Homo sapiens: one gene and its partners. The protein of the gene in region 1 purifies or fractionates together with the protein of each later gene. This does not show direct contact. Each region holds a gene or a part of one and is shown in the gene's direction. Other genes may lie near its edges. The genes, in order: MAP2K5, SCRT1, HMGA2, MACROH2A2 and LSM14A.

Region 1 (2,930 bases):
CTGTGTTACCCCGGGCGTGGGGGGAGGGGCCCGTCACTCGTGAGCACAGCTTCTCCCTTTGTTCTTTAGAAGGGCACGAGGTCGCCCCTCCTGAGCCTCCTGAGAGGAAGTGTGCACGCTTGGACTTTGGGAAGGATTTCCTCTGTCTAGGCAGCGATTTGGGAAAGCAGCCGTGGGGTGGGCATATATATGGGGAGGAGAACACTTGGAAGCCAAAATCCAGTCCTTCCTGGGCCTCTCCTGCTCAGGCCCCAGACCAAACCTCTGCCATCCACAGGGCCACACCCAGCCTGGCCTCCATGGCCCCTGTGCCCTTAGGGGTCCTGCAGGTGTGTCAGGAGCCTCCCAGAGTGCTATGAGCAGATTATGGGAAGTACCCAGCTGGGCTCCAGGCCTAGCTCCACCCCAGTCTCAGCGGGTCCCTGCCCGGGGTTGAGTGCCTTGGCATCTTCGAAGCCGAGTTTCCTCCTCCTCCTCGCAGCTCTGACAGTGCTCTGTGTGCCTCTGAGATAGACCCACGCAGGGTGTCCCCAGGGCAGGTTTCCCAACCTCGAATGAGAAGGTTGGGGGCGGGCACTGCATCAGCCTAGGATGAGGCGGCCTGAGCATTCTCCTGTCCCCCACAGTTCTGACCTGTGGTCCAGAGGGGCCATGCCGTCCCCTGCTCTACCCAGGCCTGGTCCTTGACAGCCCCTGCAGGCGCTGAGGTTGGGACAGCCAGGGTCCACATCCCTCCTGGCTTTGTGATGAGCTCGTGGCGAGGCCATGCGGCTCTTTAAGCAGCCTCTCTAGGGCTGCAGTCAAGGCTGGGGTGTGCTGGGAAAGCAACCCTGAAAGCCCAGCCTGTGCAGGTGGAGGACAGGCCCAAGAGGGGCTGAGGAAGCTGGAGGGAGGAGAGAGCTGGGGGGAGCGAGGAAGCGGCCGCTGGACAGGGAGGGAGAAGAGCTGGGGGCAGGCACATGGCGCCCTCATCTCCCCCATTCTCTGTCCTCGCTATGGCTCCCCGAGTCTCACCATGCAAGCTGCACAGTTTTGGGTAGGAGAGGAAGCCACTTGGTGTAAGTTCCTGGGCAAGAAGCCACTTGGTGAAGAGGAAGAAAAAGAAGGCTTTTCACTTTTCCTTTCACCTCTGACTGTGGCCTGGTAACCCTGGGGTTGTCCCTGCTTTTTTCTGACCTTCCCTGGGAATTCCCAGGAGGCCCTAAGATTGTGGATGTAAATCTTGGTGCTTCAGGACAGCAGAGAAGAGAACTGGCTAAATAGAATCTGGTCTGCCTGTGTGATAAGTGGGTTAGAACCAGAGGCAGGCCACAGGGCAACAGGGCCGGCCCCTCCAGAGTCCAGCCCCCAATGGAACTTCTCACCAGGAACCCAGAGATCCTGTGCACAGCCCAGCACATTCCTCCCCCTCCCCACTTCCCCTGACATGTTTGCCTTCCCTCCAATTGCAGGTGGTGACTTCTTTTTATAGGAGAGCTGTAGACAAAGGAGAAAGCTAAAAGGGATTGACATAGCCTCTGACGAGATGATTCTTTGGTCTCTGGGCACCAACTGAACCGGAAAGCTGGCAACACAGTGCCAGGCCTCGGCTGACTGGCCGTGCGAGTGATGCCGGGCAGAGGAAGGGCCAGGCAGAGTGTGCAGCGAAGACAGGCCCTCGCCCTTAAGCACCTTCCAGGCTAGTGCGAGCCTCAGGAAGAGGTGGCAGAGTCTGAGATGTGCCAGCCAGCACTCCACACGCTTGGTGCTGACTACCAGTATGTCACTGCTCGTCCCTGGGCCTCAATTATCTAGGCCGTGAAATGGAGCTGATAGCCTCCCTCGTTACCTCACAGGGTTACTGGGGAAAGAGATCAGATCCAGGCTGAGGGCAGGCCCTGGAAAGTACAATGAGCGCGGGAGTCCGAGGACTGCCTGTCACAGCCTCCTCCTCTTCCCCGCAGGGCCACCCGTTCATCGTGCAGTTCAATGATGGAAATGCCGCCGTGGTGTCCATGTGGGTGTGCCGGGCGCTGGAGGAGAGGCGGAGCCAGCAGGGGCCCCCGTGAGGCTGCCGCAGGGCACTGAAAGCCCAGGACCAGTAACCAAGGAGAACAACCCACCCGTCGCCCTTCTCCGTATGCTGCCTGCGCCAGAAGAGCTTTGCTGGGCCCTGGCTTCCCTGCCCTCGCCTTCACCTCTGTCAGCAGGTGGCCTTGCCTGGGGAGCCCCATGTGTGGCCCACCCCACCAGGCCATCCCCATACCTTCTGGTTTGAAGGCGCTGACACTGGCAGAGAGGTAAAGGGTGGGGCATTGAGAATGGAGGCTCCCAGGGTCCCTGCCCACTTCTGTTTTCCTAATGTTTTTCTCTATAAAGGGTCAGGCCCGTCAGCATCACTGATGGGAATAAAAGTATTAATGCTTTGTGACAGCCTCTGCCATAAGAGTTGTGTGGTCCAGGGGGTCTGTGACCCCCCCCAGGGCTGGGGGCAGGTGGGATCTCCACTTCAGCAGGGATGTGTGTGACAGTGCCTGCTGCCTGCCCAGGCACCTGCAAGCCTCCTGCTAGCTCCTCGCAGTTGTGCTGAGGCCCACAGCCCAGCTCCACTGTCAGATGAGAAACAGAAGCACGGAGGCATTGGGATGGGTCCCATGGCAAGGAGTAGGCCCGGATCTCAGGCCCCCGCCATGAGCTCCTTACTGGACTGCCAGACACATCCACCTGACCTGCGTGGCTGAGGAGGGAGTGGGCTGTTCTGAGAGGCCCTTCTCCACCCCAGCCCCACCCCTGCTCCTCACTGCCCTTGACCCCACACCTGCCACCTCTCACCTCTCAGGAAATCCCCTCAGCCACATGCCAGGTAAGCCTGGCTACCCCCATTTTGCAGGTGAGGAGCTGAGGCTCCAAGGGGCTCAGGATTCCACTTGAAGGTCTGAATAGCATCTCAA
Region 2 (4,104 bases), on another chromosome or scaffold:
CGCCCCGCCATTGGCCGCTGAGCCTGACGTCATGGGGGCTGCAAACGCTGGGCGGGCGGCCGAGGAAAGGGTTATCCGCCTGGTTGCGGGGCTGCCGTGGGGAGCTGCAGCCGCGCGGAAGGGCGGAAAACCCCCAAAGCAGCAGAATTTCTGGAGCAGGGTCGTGGCAGCCCCTCTCCAGCTCCACACCCGGCTCGCAGCGACGCCGCTGCGCCGCACACCCGCCCGGGGGGAGAGAGGCGGGGGCGGGTAGGCCCCTCCAGCGTGCACGGGGTCAGCCGGGGTGACCGAGCGGCGGGAGCCACTGCGGCACAGGGCGCGCGCTGCGCTTTCGCTGCCTCAGCACTTGCTCCTTCGGCTCCCGCCTCCCCCGCCCGCCCCCGCAGATCCCGCGCCCCAGGCCCCGAGCGAGGCAGGCGGGACTGGGGTCCTCCCTACGTTCCTCCCCACAAGACCCCGAGTCCGGGGCGCTTGGGTCCCAGGCCTGGCTCCATTTCTCCCCACACGCCCGACAATGCTGCTGGCTGCCGGGCCGCGGTTCCCCGAGCCGCGCGGGGGAATTCCCCACTCGCGCAGGCTGAGGCATCCCCGGGACCCCTCCCAGGAGACCCAGGCCGGGGCTCGGCCCAGCGCAGCCATTTCCGCCGGCCTCTCCCCCACCTCCCTCCCCCTCCCCCAGCTCCTGGGCTTTAAAAGCCAGAGGCTGGGCCGGGCCGCAGGCAGAGGCGGCTGCGGGCTCTGGAGGCCGGGCCCAGGAGCAGTCCGAGCGCCGAGCCCCGCCCCCGGAGCCCCTGTCCCTCCCTCCCTCCCTCCCTCGGCCCGCCCTCCCTGCGCACCCCTCCCCCCAGGACCCCCGCCCCCCGCCCGCCGCCGCCGCCGCCGCCGCCGCCGCCGTCGCCACTGCCGCTCGCTCCGGCTGCAGAACAATAAAGCAAGCCTCCCAGAGACCCCCGCCGAGGACCCCTGCCCGGCGGCCAAACCCCCGCGGACCGCCCCTCTCCGCCCGCGCCGGTTGAGCGCGCCCGGGCGCTGGCCGCGGTGCTGCCCAGGCCGGCGCTGGCCGCGGTGCTGAAGCTGCCGGCGCTGCCGCTGCCACCGCGTTCTCCGGGCCCGGCGCCGCCGCCCCCGGGGGCATGGGGGGCCGCTGACTGAGGCTCCGCCGCGGCGGCGGGGGGGGGGAGGGGAAGGGGGCCACCGAGCCGGGCCAGCCCTGCACCCACTCGCAGCCTCCAGGCCCGGGACGGAGCCGCTCCCCCCCTCTCCGCCCCCCCAGCCTCCTCCCCCGCCTGTCCAGGGGCGGCACTGCGGGCTGGGAAGCCGGGACCAGAGGAGGGAAGGAAGGAAGAGGAGAGGAGAGAAGAGGAGAGAAGGAAGGAAGGATTGAAGGAAGGAAGGAAGGATTGAAGGAAGGAGGAAGAAGAGGGATCCGGAGGGGCAACGGAGGAGACGCAGGGCAGCAAGGAGAGAGGACACCACTCGCGCGGCAGCATCCAAAGGCCAGAGTGGGGACCCGCGCTGCCTCCGCCGCTCCTCGGATGGTGACGGGGCCCTGCCGCCGCAGCCCCCCCAAGCCCCGGCTCCGCAGGCCCACAGCGCCGGAGCCCCGCAGGAATCATGCCCAGGTCCTTCCTGGTCAAGAAGGTCAAACTTGACGCGTTCTCTTCGGCCGACCTGGAGAGCGCCTACGGACGCGCCCGCAGCGACCTCGGCGCGCCACTGCACGATAAAGGTGAGCGCTGGTCTGAGACCAGGGCGCGGGGCCTGGGGCTTTGCTGGAAGCGGTGGAGGGCCAGAGTGTGGGGGCGGAGGGCAGGGCCCGGGGAAACAGACTGAAGGGAACCAGAAACGGCAAGAGTCTGTGGCTGGAGCCTGGACGGTAGAGGGGAGGAAGGGGAACACAGAGGCCAAGGCTGGGCAGGGAGAGTGTCGACGTTGGACAGAGGGTGGGGAAGAGGATCAGGAACTGAGGTACCCAAACGCACACATGGACCCACATCCTGACCCATGCTGGGACAGACACAGCCGCATGGGCGCTGCCATGACGGGACCCAGCCATGCCGGCACACACAGACCTACACTCAAGAGACCAGGGCCGCCTCGCCACCCTCTCCTCTTCCTTGACTGCACCAGGACACCTGCTAGGGTTAGCTGGGGAATGCAGGGAGCTCCAGGGAGTAGGCAGGGGGTCCAACAGGGCCGCCCACCTGTCAGAGCAGAGGGCCAGCAGAGGCAGCAGCAGTCTCTTCCCTGAAGCCTGGGTCAGGGAGAGGAAGCAGGGAGGAGGCTGTGAGCAAGGGACGCCCAAGGTGTGGGAGGCAGGGGGAGGCTCTTTGTGTAAGGGTGCCCAAGTTCAAGGACAACTGTCAGCATGCAGGAGAGGGGGACAGGAGTGCCAGCAGCATGGGGTGGCAGAGCAAGTGTGACCTGCAGGAGTGTGAGCCTGTGTGGGTCCATGTGACTGTGTGTGGCCATGTGACCGTGTGCGCTTGTGTGTGACCCTGTGTGTGTGTGTGCTTGCCTGTGTGCCACTACATGGGACCATGTGACTCTGAGGCCGCTGTGCACCATGTGACTTGAGAGTGTGTCCGGGGTGACTGCATGTGTGACCCTGCGTGAGTGAGGAGGTGGTGAGTTCGGCACATCAGTGTGCAGCCCACCCTGTGAGGGCACACAAGGGCTGATCATGCTGGGAGACTGGGTGTAGCCCTGAAGGAGGCAGAGCGTCGCGAGGGGCGTGCATTTGTGACTTTGAGGTTATGAGATCCATCTTGTGCCTGGGGAGCAACTGCAGCTACCGGTATAAGTGATGCTGCCCTCCTGCAGCTCGTCCCTGTGAAAGTGGACGCCCTGGCCCTCTCTGCACAGTTCAGGGGCTTGGGAAGGCCCTGAAAGGGGTTAGGGTGTGAGCAGGAGAGGGCAATGTTGAACAGGGTAGGACCCAAGGGTGCAGGATGGTGAGAGGGAGTTCGGAGGAGAAGCAGAGTGCATGGAGGAGCAGGGAGGGCAGGGTCAAGTCCAGTGGGTGGCCGGAGAGCTGAGGGAGGTGCTGGTGAGGCCGGAGGGAACTGGGGGAGGGAGACGTCTTCAGGGCTTGTTGGAGGAACCAGAAGGCCAGAGGGGGTCAACATCAAAATGGAGCGCACGTTCTGCAGGCCAGAGGGAGAGCCGGCCAGGACCCCGGAGAGGTGGGACAGACGGGGTCCCTGGGCCGGCAGTCCTGGCTTTGTGCGCCGCGGGTCTGCAGTGTGTTGCATAATCAGGGAAAACTGCTGAAGTGGGGAGAACCCGAGGGGGAGGGGAGGGTGGGTGGGGGAGGAGGGAGAGGGAAGCGCCGCCCCTCCCCCCTGACCTTGAGGCTCCGCGGAAGGGGGGCAGCCGCGCCCGAAGACGCGCCTCTCTCCTCCTCTCTGCGAGGGTGGGGCGGCGGGGGCGGAGCGTGGCCCGGCCCTGTCTCATCCTCTCCTCCCCTCTCTTCCCCTCCCTGCTGTCTCCATCCTCCCTGCCCGGCGGTCCCTCGGCCTCCTCTCCTTTGTCCTCCTCCCTGTTCGCCTCTCTCCCGGACCCGGGTCTCCCGGTCCGCGTCTGCTGTCTCCCGCCCCCCCATCCCCCGTGTGTGTCCTGCCGCCGCCCCATTCCCTTCCCGCTGTCCGTCCGCCTCCGCCCGCAGGGTACCTCAGCGACTACGTGGGGCCCTCGTCCGTCTACGATGGCGACGCCGAGGCTGCGCTGCTCAAAGGGCCGTCGCCGGAGCCCATGTACGCAGCAGCTGTGCGTGGAGAGCTGGGTCCGGCGGCTGCAGGGTCTGCGCCGCCGCCCACCCCGCGCCCGGAGCTGGCCACCGCTGCGGGCGGCTACATCAACGGCGACGCGGCCGTCAGCGAGGGCTACGCGGCGGACGCCTTCTTCATCACCGACGGGCGCTCGCGGCGTAAGGCTTCCAATGCCGGCGCTGCCGCCGCTCCCTCCACAGCCTCGGCGGCGGCCCCCGACGGCGACGCCGGAGGCGGGGGCGGGGCGGGCGGGCGCAGCTTGGGATCCGGGCCGGGGGGCCGGGGCGGCACGCGCGCGGGGGCAGGCACCGAGGCGCGCGCGGGGCCAGGGGCC
Region 3 (3,518 bases), on another chromosome or scaffold:
CAATCTGAGTGCTCAAAATTTGTCCCTGAATCAGTTTCATATAGTTACCTGAATAAAAGAAATCAGAAGTTAAAGTTTTCCTGAATAATTCATTTGTCCATGTGTGTATACGTCTGTGTGAGCATATCTTTACCCTTTTATTTATTTTTTAGTCTGAGGTACACCTATGACCAGTTATGTCTTAACTTCCTTTTTTGTTTTGTTTTGCTTTGCTTTGCTTTCCTGGTTGTGGTGGATGGAAATCTTTGCATTTTTACAGTTCCCAGATGGTTAGAGAGAAAGAAGTTATAATCTCCTTTAGTTTAGGGTTTTGTTGTACTTTTTTAATCATGACAGAATACTGGAGGGGTTGTCACTAATTCTTCAGTGTTGAAGGTCTCAGGTCAAATTCACCTTTAAGTTTTAAGCCAATTCTCATTCACATATTTTAGGAAGTTTTTTTCTGAGGTTGAATTAAATTTTATTGGAAGGAAAATGAAAATAAAAAAAAAAGATCTCAGGTGTGAGATAACCCTACTTCATCATGTCATATATTTGTTCACCACCCTTTTGACTTTAGGTGTAATGGACAGATCTAGGAAGCAAAGTGCAGAATGAAAATATCTAGATAAAGTAGTTATAGTTAAAATAATGTGTTCAGAGTAAATGTTTAATCTCTATGTTTGATTTGCTATAAAAAGAAGGCCTGAATTAATTAGATACTGTAAAGACTACTTCATGCTCCTTCTAATCATTTGCATTTCTCGAAATGTGGTTTGCTTTTCATAATCATTACCCACACCAATCACAGATATTTTAAAAAGAGAGAAGATAGTTTTAGTCACCATTTCAGAAAAATCATTCAGCATAAATGCTGAGTGAGGACAGAATTTTCTTCAGAATATAGTAGGCCTAATTAAAAGGAGAAACCAAAGACATTATTATTGGTGAGTTAAGGAAAGGTAACTTTGGAAGTTATCATATAATTCTGGCCTATGGTTTCTAAATTAAACTACTATGATTTAGTTTAATTCCTCTGTGTTTCAATGGGCAGGTAAGTTTTATTGTGGGATTCAGGGCCCTATCTGAGGATACAAATGAATTCAGGCGGATTCAGGGCCCTATCTGAGGATACAAATGAATTCAGCAGGTGAAATTAAGTAAAGTCCAACTGTTGTTCCATTATCTTGATATTTAGGCTGACTTACCTAAACAATTGACTAATTTTTTTCTTTCACTTTGCCAGGGAAGACAAAGCCTTACTTAATGCACCAGCACATTCTATCTGGTAATGCTTTTAATCATCACAGATTATGATCCAAATATGGGAGATTGAAATACATTTGAATTATCTTATGAAGTAATTTTATTTCAAGGGACCTATAGTTCTACTTCTCTGGAAGCTCTCATCCTTCTGAACTCTTCTGAACTTGAAGTCTCCTCATTTCTCTGGCTGACCTACATTCCTGGCTCATTTTTATCTCAAGTTCTCAACAGATCATTTTGCTAAGGAGATAGAATATACCAGATTGGTATTCTATTGCATTTCAGTTCTTTCTTGAGAATAGATGGGTGCTGAAGAGGATTTTATGTCAGTTAAATCATTCAAACATGTCTTGTCTTGTTAGTTGACTTTCTGCAGTTTACAGAGCAGAAGGCACAAAGTGGAAACTGAATTAATTTCACTGATTCTGAAGGTTTTAGTTATGAATCTTTGTTCTGCCAACCAAGAGAAAAGGGGAAATAGAGAACTGTTATTTGTTAGGGCATTGCATTATTTCATATTGTTTTAATACACTGAGCAATTTTGAATGGCATATTCTATTTAAATTAGGGAAGAGTAGTGCAGGCATTCTCTTTTGTCTAGGATCATGTTTGCTCAGAAGGTAACTCCTGTGATCAATAGCAATGATCTCTTGTATCATTGCTATTGATTTTTATGATTACAAAGAAGTAGAGAGAAGATTTGGAGGAGAAGAATCTTAAACTTTGAAAATGATAACTTTGCCTGTCATTTGGCTTTGGTTTTAATTTAGTGTTTGTATACATGAAGATAAGCATGTGCAAAATAAGGACACCAGAGTTGACAGTAAAGGCTAACTTGGGTAATAGGCAGGAACTACAATGGGTGATGGAAATTACTTATATTTTCTATTGGAAAATATATTGTGATAGCAAATTGTAATGTCTCTTCAAGGCTAAAAGTGTTGCATGTAAAATTAGGAAACTTACAGAACTGGATTATCAAAAAGGTAAAATGAGAATTTCCTCAGTACTTAGTGGGATTGATTCGTAGAGTTGATTTTGATATCAGTGTACATTGATTTATACTGTTTATATTTTTAAAAATAGCAACTGAAGGAAATAAAATGTGCTTTCTAGGCTTTGGATAGTGGGCTTCATGCAAATCAAGATACATGCAAACAAGACAGGGCACCATCACACCCAAATATTTTTCTAGTTTTTTTTTTTTTTGGTACAGATGCACTGATGGATTTGCAGTGGGGGATTTCTGGCTATATCACAGTACATAAAAAAAATGATGAGAGAACTTGTAATAGCAAAAAATTAATAGCCACCTAAACCTGACCCTGAAGTCAGAATTGAATTATTCTTAGTTTCCAACCTCTGCTCTTGTCCATGTGTTTATAGGAAACTTGGAAATACATTACTTTTAACTAATTTGATTTTCACCCTAGAAGGTTATCTTTTATTTTTTAAATTTTTGAATGGCAGTTTTATTTTATATGGGAATAGCTCTCCAAAGAACAGACACTTCACTGCATTGAAATCAGATTGGGTCTCAGTTCTACTACCTGTGAACATGGGCAGGTTGCTTAATCTCCCATTTGTAAAACGGGAAGTAACACCTGCCCTGCCCTACTGAAGTAAGATAATGCTTGGAAAGTCACTTTGGAAACTAAGAAAATTGGTAAGTATTATATTTGTGGGTAGCATTTTAAAATAAGGGGAGGGAAAAGAAATTACATTTGACTAAGTGCTAAATGCCATAGCTTTTGTCAGGCACTTTATATATATGTTAGCTCCTTTAATCCTCTGATTTAGGCATTGTGGTCTTCATTCCACAAATGAGAAAACTGTGATTCAAAGATGTAAACAGGACATATCTGATATTCAACTCTGGTAAATGGTAGCACCTGGGTTTGAATTCACTTTAATTCTAAAGCTTATACTCTTTCCACTACCATGTGCTGAATGTTCTGTAAAATATTTGTTACAAGGTAGATTTCTGTTATCTCCAGTAACCTGAAATGCAGGTTGGAAATTACGCTTTGGGAAACCTTTGAAGGGCCACTCCAAAGGTTATAAAGGGATTGGAAATGTATGCCTTCTGCGACTGATACCCACAAGACTTCTGGTTCCCAAATAATATCATGGGGCTATGTCTTTGGGAATTGTAACACATCCAGAAGTTTTCTTCTTTGCTAAATGAGAGGGCTAGGTGAAATTATCTCTAGTTTTACTGAACTCTAGAATTCTGATGATAAGAGGGAAATAAGACACACATATAAACACTT
Region 4 (3,518 bases), on another chromosome or scaffold:
GACTCCTGACTTCCCAAGACGGAATAGAGTTGGAGGAAAGGGTGGCCCGGGAAAGAAGGAAGTTCAGGGTTATAATTTATCATAACTCCAGGCATAATCCAGCACAGGCTTTGGGGAGAGGTGGTCTTTAGAAAGCAGGGTCTTCTCTGGAGTGGCCCCAGAGGCTCAGCACTTCCTCCCGTCGGTGGGCTCTGGTAGATGTAACATGTCAGCTCCATAAGCCCCTCCTTGCTTCCCCTAGGGATTCCTGGATGTGCTCTAATTCTTACTGTCCGTGTCCAGGGACCTCACAGCCCTGAGTCCCCAGGAGGGCCTGGGAGATAGGTGCCTGGCTGCTTAAATTCCGCACAAGACCTGAAAAGATGGGTTTGGCAGGCATAGAGGACTCTCCAGTCCTGCTTAAAATACATGCATAAGTCAGTCCATCTCACACTTAGACTTCAGATGGAGCTGCATCCCCCACCCAGGGGGATTTCCTCTAAGGCCCTCACTTAGAGGGAAGTCTGGAAGCCACAGAGGGAAAAACTTATTATAAAGTACCATGTTCAGGATGATTCTTACATTTAGGTACTTTTTTACAATGTGCAGGTGGTATGTTTCTCTACTTGTTCCTACTTTGATTTTCCTTACTTGGCTATTTTATCTTCATGAGTGTTGAGTTTTGTTTGTTTGTTTGTTTTTGAGACGGAGTTTCGCTGTCGTTGCCCAGCAGGAGTGCAATGGTACAATCTCGGTTCACTGCAACCTCCTCCTCCTGGGTTCAAGTGATTCTTTTGCCTCAGCCTCCAGAGTAGCTGGAATTACAGGCACCCGCCACCACGCCCGGCTAATATTCTGTATTTTTAGTAGAGTCGGGGTTTCATCATGTTGCCCAGGCTCAAACTCCTGACCTCAGGTGATCCACCCACCTTAGCCTCCCAAAATGTAGGGATTACAGGCGTAAGCCACCACGCTTGGCCTCTTCCTGAGTGTTTTAGGCATCCGTCCCCTAAAGTCACTTGCTTTTCTTATACTCCTAGTCCTAAGTTCCAATTTTTAGGGCAGTTTGTGACTTCTCTTGGCAGCTAATAGTAGGAAAGTCCCTAAATGGCTTTATCCTGCACACCTAGTCATTCTCTGGCTGTTTTGAGGAAAGTGTGTGTGTGTGTGTGTGTGTCTGTGTGCATGTGCATGTGTGTGTGTGTGTGAGCGCGTGCATGTATGCGTGTGCACGTGCATGCGTGTGTGGGCGCGCGTGTGCATGTGCATGAGTGTGTGTGTGTGTGTGCGCGTGTGCACAGGGGGTGTCCCTGCCCTTGTGGTGTTTGTACTTCATGCAGCATTCTCTGGTGGAAGCATGGTAGGGAGAGATTAAGACCAGCCAGCACACACCATATTCACAGAGCACGTCCACCCTGTGATGGGCTTTTCAGGTGGTTTCTTGACAACCAGACTTAGTAATCATCCTCCAATCCCACTTACCATTAACTGAGAAAAGCACATAATTGGCTTAGGAGAGTCACTAATGCACCTTTATGAGCCTGTGTAGGCTCTTAAGTCTTTAGAACCGACTGCTTAAAGAGCCTAAGCTTCTCTACCAAAATCATTGAAAAGTGCCTTTCAGAAAAATCAGGATGTTTAAGAGCAGAACAACTGTAAGGATGTTAGCCACCTGCCCTGTTTTACAGAGAAGGCCACTGAGGTCCAAATAAATAACATATGAAGCTCACATAACTACAGTCATGCATCACTTAACGAAAGGGGTACGTTCTGAGAAATGCATCGTTAGGTGATTTTGTCATTGTGCAAACAGCATAGAGTGGACTTCACAAACCTAGATGGTACAGCCTCCTGTACACCTAGGCTATAATCCTATGATCTGTTGCTTCTGGGCTACAAACCTGCTCAACATCTTACCATACTGAATACTGCAGGCAATGGTGATGGTAAGTTTTTGTGTCTCTAAACTTAGAAAAGGACAGTAAAATACAGTATAAAATGTAAACAGCAGTACACATGTATAGGGCACTTGCCGTGAATAGAGCTTGCAGGACTAGAAGTACTCTGGGTGAGTGAGTGAGTGGTGAGTGAATGTGAAGGCCCGGGACATTATTGTACACTACTGTAGACTTTATACCGTACATGTTAGCTACACTACATTTAAAAGAGAATATTTTCCTTAATAATAAATTAACCTTACCCAATAATAAATTTTCCAATAAATTATCCAATAATAAATTAACCTTAGCTTACTGTAATTTTTTTTACTTTATAAACTTTTTAACCTTTTTAAACTTTTTGACTCTTTTGTAATAACACTTAGCTTAAAACACAAATACATTGCACAGCTACTACACATATTTTCCTTCTTTATAGCCTTACTCTATAAGCATTTTTCTTTTTTTATTTTATTATTATTATACTTTAAGTTTATAAGCATTTTTCTATTAAAATTTTTTTTAACTTTTTAAACTTCTGTTAAAAAAAATAAGACACATACACATTAGCCTAGGCCTACACAGAGTCAGGGTCATCAATAACACTGTCTTCCACCTTCACATCTTGTCCACTGGAAAGTCTTTAGGGACAATAACACGCACGGAGCTGTCATCTCCTGTAATAATAATGCCTCCTTCTGGAATACCTCCTGAAGGATCCATTTAAGGCTGGTTTACAGTTTACTTTGTTTTTAATAAGTAGAAGGAGTACCAGTAACATCGTCATTTGTTATCAAGTATTATATACTATACATAATTATATGTGCTAGACTTTTATATGACTGGCAGCACAGTAGGTTTGTTTACATCAGCATCACCACAAACACATGAGTAAGGCATTGTGCTACACCGTTAGGATGTCACTAGGTTGGCCAGGTGTGGTGGCTCACACCTGTAATCCCACCACTTTGGGAGGCTGAGGAAGATGGATCACTTGAGGTCAGGAGTTTGAGACCACCCTGGCCAACATGGTGAAACCTCGTCTCTACTAAAAATACAAAAATTAGCCAGGCATGGTGGTGCACACCGATAGTCCCAGCTACTTGGGAGGCTGAGGCAGGAGAATCGTTTGAACCCCAGAGGCAGAAGTTGCAATGAGCCGAGATTGCACCACTGCACTCCAGCCTAGGGGACAGAGCAAGACTCCTTCCCAAACAACAACAACAACAACAAAAAGATGTCACTAGGGCATAGGAATTTTTCAGCTCCATTATGATCATACAGGACCACCGTCATATGCGGTCATTGTGGGGTGCATGACTGTAGTTATGTAGAAGCGGCGCTATGCCCAGGACTTTCTGTTCCGCAGTCCTGGGCTCCTTCCACTATAGCAAGAGCCACCTCCATTTAGAGCACCACAACCCAGCTAGCAAACACGTGCTATGTGAGGACAGGGACCACTTAGCAATGCTGTCTGTTTCCCCTCTTTCCTGCGACAGGGCTGACTAACAGCAGGCCCTCCATACATTTACCTAACACATAGTTGCTTGCTTCCTCAAAGAGAAAACCCCTACAAGTGGATTTATGAGAGTGAGCAGCCAC
Region 5 (3,518 bases), on another chromosome or scaffold:
CAGAATGCCGGGATTACAGGCATGAGCCACCGCACCCGGCTGCTTTTTCTTAAGCAACATGAGTTAAATGTGTAACCAGTTTGGGGAATTTGATTATGTTCGCAAAAACTGACATTATCAAACCTTTATATATTAGTCTACATGATATTATCTAATCGAAAACTACATTATAACTGTCTAGTCAATACTGGACACATTTCAGATTTCAAGATTAGAAGCAAGGAGTTCAATCTTAAAATTTTAAAATTTACATGACTTGTTGAGTAATTCGATATCAGAAAATTTCACCTTCCATTTCAAAATTTGAACGAAGAATGGTAGTCTAAAAGATTAAAGCCAAAAGTGTTTGTTTTGTTTTGTTTTCGTTTTTTTTTGTTGTTGTTTTGAGACAGAGTCTTGCTCTTGCCCAGGCTGGAGTGCAGTGGTGCGATCTTGGCTCGCTGCAGCCTCCACCTCCCGGGTTCAAGCAGTTCTGCCACAGCCTTCCGAGTAGCTGGGACTACAGGCGCCCAACACAGCTGGCTAATTTTTGTATTTTGAGTAGAGACGGGGTTTCACCATGTTGGCCAGGCTGGTCTCAAACTCCTGACCTCAGATGATCCACCCACCTTGGCCTCCCAAAGTGCTGGGATTACAGGTGTGAGGCACTGCACCCGGCCTGAAGCCAAAAGTTTATTCATGGAATTTATAATACAGTGTGTATTTGGATGTAGAGATCCCTGTTACTGTTTTTAAACTATGGATTAAGAGTTAATCTCTTTGAGTAACAGTCTTAGCATTCTCTTTTGAACTTTTTTTTTTTTAATTTCTCAGGGAGAGTGTTATTGGGAAACCTAACTACACAGGCTGAAAAGATACATAAGATAAAAATGAAATATTTTTAAACAAACATCTTTGTAACCACCACCCAGGGCAAGACAGACATTGCCAGCATCCCAGAAGCCTCCCACCACCTATATTTTCCCATCACAACTATCACCATCTTAATTTAAGCTAGATATAAATGTTCTTCTGACATTTATAGTTTTACCATATAAGTTTACATCTCTAAATAATAGAGTTTAATTTTGCCCATTTTTAACTTTATGTAAATAGGATTGTGTTGTATATATTTTATTTTTAGCTTTTATTGTTTCATAATATTCCATCATGAATATAACACAAGTTTATTCCTTCTGCCATTGTTTTGGATATTGCATTTAGATTGTTTGCAGTTTGGGGCTATTATAAACAATGCTTTTATGAACATTTCTGTTTAAGTGCACTGGTGCATGTTTATTTCGTTTTCTTGAGATTATATACTTAGAATTTGAATTGCAAGAACATGGGGAATGTTGGTCTTTATCAGGTAATGCCAGGTAGTTTTTCAAAGTAGTTGTTTAGTGGTTTTTACTTCATTTATTAGTATGTAAGAGTTCTTGTTTCATATCCCTTACCAACAACCGTACGTGGTATCATATATTTCAATTCTAGCCAATCCTGGTGGGTATGTAGTTGTATTTAGTTTTAATCATTTCCCTCATTACTAAATGGGGCTGACCAGCTTTTCATATCTGGGTGTTTGGATTTCATTTTTCATAAAATGCCTTTGAAATCTTTTCCTTTTTTAAATCGAAACACGTCTTTTTCTAGAGTTCTGTATTCTGAATATATCTCCATTGTTGGATGTATATATTGCAAACATTTTTTCCATTTAGTAGTTTCTTTAAATTAACAGAAGTTCTTCATTTTAATGTAAACATGTTCATCAGTTTTTTATGGCTAGTGTTTCTTTTTTTAAAACATCATAGAGATACTTTGATTATCTTTAAACCTTTTTGTGCTTTGCTTTTTCACATTGACGTTTATAATGCATCTGAAATTGATTTTGTGTACAATGTGAGATATTCAGAGCTTTATATTTAGTAAGGGATTCACTTGGTTTATATTGTCCATATTATAATTTAGGGCTTGGATATTATAATTTAAATATATCTGGAACTATAAACTACTCTTGAAATTTTTGGCTATTTACATTTGATGTGGTATATAATTAGGGTAACCATATGGCCTAGTTTGCCCTGGTGGAAAGTCCTTGTTTGTGCCTGCTCTGGCATAATTATTAAAAACATCCCGGCTGGGCAGGGTGACTCAGGCCTGTAATCCCAACATTTCCAAAAGGTCAAGGCCGGGGTATTGCTTGAGCCCAGGAGTTCAAAACCAGCCTCGGCAATACAGGGAGACTCCATTTCTACAAAAAATTTTAAAAAGTGCATTAGCCAAGCATGGTGGCATGCATGTCTGTCGTCCCAGCCACTTGGGAGGCTGAGGCAGGGGGATTGCTTGAGCCCAAGAGGAGCTGTGATCATGCCACTGCACTCCAGCCTGAAACATAGAACAAGACCTTGTCTTAAAAAATAACAATGATAGCCTGTAATCCCAGCACTTCAGGAAGCTGAGGCAGGCGAATCACCTGAAGTCAGAAGCTCGAGACCAGTCTGGCCAACATGGCGAAACCCCGTCTCTACTAAAAATACAAAAATTATCTGGGCGTGCTGGTGCATGTCTGTAATCCCAGCTACTTGAGAGGCTGAGGCAGGAGAATTGCTTGAACCTGAAAGGCGGAGGTTAGAGTGAGCCAAGATCACACCACTGTACTCTAGCCTGGGCAACAGAGCGAGACTCTGTCTCAAAAAAAAAAAAAACACAAAATAATAATAATAATCTGTTTTCTCTTTTGAAAATGTTTCAGTGTGGATAAGTTATCACACCACATAATCAAAAGCCTAATTGCAGAGGTGCTGTGAAATGGTCGATGTGCCTTATTTTCTGCTAGAGATGTCACAGACTAGCTTTAGTTCTAGAAAGTGAAACAGGTAAGTTTGAGGGGCTTTGATCCTCGGAACCTAAGCATATGTCAAGAAGTCATAAAGGCAACCTAGAAAGGCTTTGATGTCAATCTGCTATGTATGTTTATAGATGATCTGTGTTGCAGTTTGTTTCTGCAGTTTGTTGCAGTTTGTAGTCTGTGTCACAGCTCTGAATTTATTTTCTTCTCAGCACTGATCATGACTTACACTTAATCTTCTTTGCTTATTTGCATATGTGTTTATTGTCTGTCTTCACCTTCCCCTTCACCTCCAGACTCTGAGCTCCTGGTATGAAAGGTTGTTTAGTTAGTGAGTAAATGGAAATGATTTAGCATTTTAGCTTATTGTTCTTGTAGAAGTATCTTGGGTATACCTCCAAATAATGCTTTTCCATGTTCACAATTGCATTTCCCTATAAAATTAAATTATCCTGCCTCACATTAAGAAATCTTGAAGAATTTCAGTGAGTAGGGATGCAAGAGGATGAAATCTAGTGACATAATTAACATTATTGGGGAGGTAAACTCTTTGTGACTCAAGCTCAATTATAATTTTCATTTAAAGTTTAAAGGAAGCCTCCATTCAGGGTGTAGGAAGAAATTACACAGTGGTGACATGTATGAATATTTTATGGAATAGTTCCAGTTGTGTTTGCACCTACGTCTATAA

Evidence for each region.
Region 2: the proteins of MAP2K5 (region 1) and SCRT1 purify together in Homo sapiens (affinity purification with mass spectrometry, with the first as the bait; one large-scale study listed by BioGRID). This does not show direct contact.
Region 3: the proteins of MAP2K5 (region 1) and HMGA2 purify together in Homo sapiens (affinity purification with mass spectrometry; one large-scale study listed by BioGRID and IntAct). This does not show direct contact.
Region 4: the proteins of MAP2K5 (region 1) and MACROH2A2 purify together in Homo sapiens (affinity purification with mass spectrometry; one large-scale study listed by BioGRID and IntAct). This does not show direct contact.
Region 5: the proteins of MAP2K5 (region 1) and LSM14A purify together in Homo sapiens (affinity purification with mass spectrometry; one large-scale study listed by BioGRID and IntAct). This does not show direct contact.

Annotation. Positions count from the first base shown.
Region 1 is NC_000015.10:67,804,703-67,807,632, forward strand, and holds the end of MAP2K5 (dual specificity mitogen-activated protein kinase kinase 5), read left to right. Parts: intron 1-1,943; coding exon 1,944-2,048; 3' UTR 2,049-2,412; downstream 2,413-2,930. UniProt on the Homo sapiens protein: Acts as a scaffold for the formation of a ternary MAP3K2/MAP3K3-MAP3K5-MAPK7 signaling complex.
Region 2 is NC_000008.11:144,333,680-144,337,783, reverse strand, and holds the start of SCRT1 (transcriptional repressor scratch 1), read left to right. Parts: upstream 1-1,301; 5' UTR 1,302-1,614; coding exon 1,615-1,729; intron 1,730-2,592; exon of another isoform or gene 2,593-2,797; intron 2,798-3,667; coding exon 3,668-4,104. UniProt on the Homo sapiens protein: Transcriptional repressor that binds E-box motif CAGGTG. Can modulate the action of basic helix-loop-helix (bHLH) transcription factors, critical for neuronal differentiation.
Region 3 is NC_000012.12:65,830,974-65,834,491, forward strand, and holds part of HMGA2 (high mobility group protein HMGI-C), read left to right. Parts: intron 1-3,518.
Region 4 is NC_000010.11:70,069,829-70,073,346, forward strand, and holds part of MACROH2A2 (core histone macro-H2A.2), read left to right. Parts: intron 1-3,518. UniProt on the Homo sapiens protein: Variant histone H2A which replaces conventional H2A in a subset of nucleosomes where it represses transcription. Nucleosomes wrap and compact DNA into chromatin, limiting DNA accessibility to the cellular machineries which require DNA as a template.
Region 5 is NC_000019.10:34,175,491-34,179,008, forward strand, and holds part of LSM14A (protein LSM14 homolog A), read left to right. Parts: intron 1-3,518. UniProt on the Homo sapiens protein: Essential for formation of P-bodies, cytoplasmic structures that provide storage sites for translationally inactive mRNAs and protect them from degradation. Acts as a repressor of mRNA translation. May play a role in mitotic spindle assembly.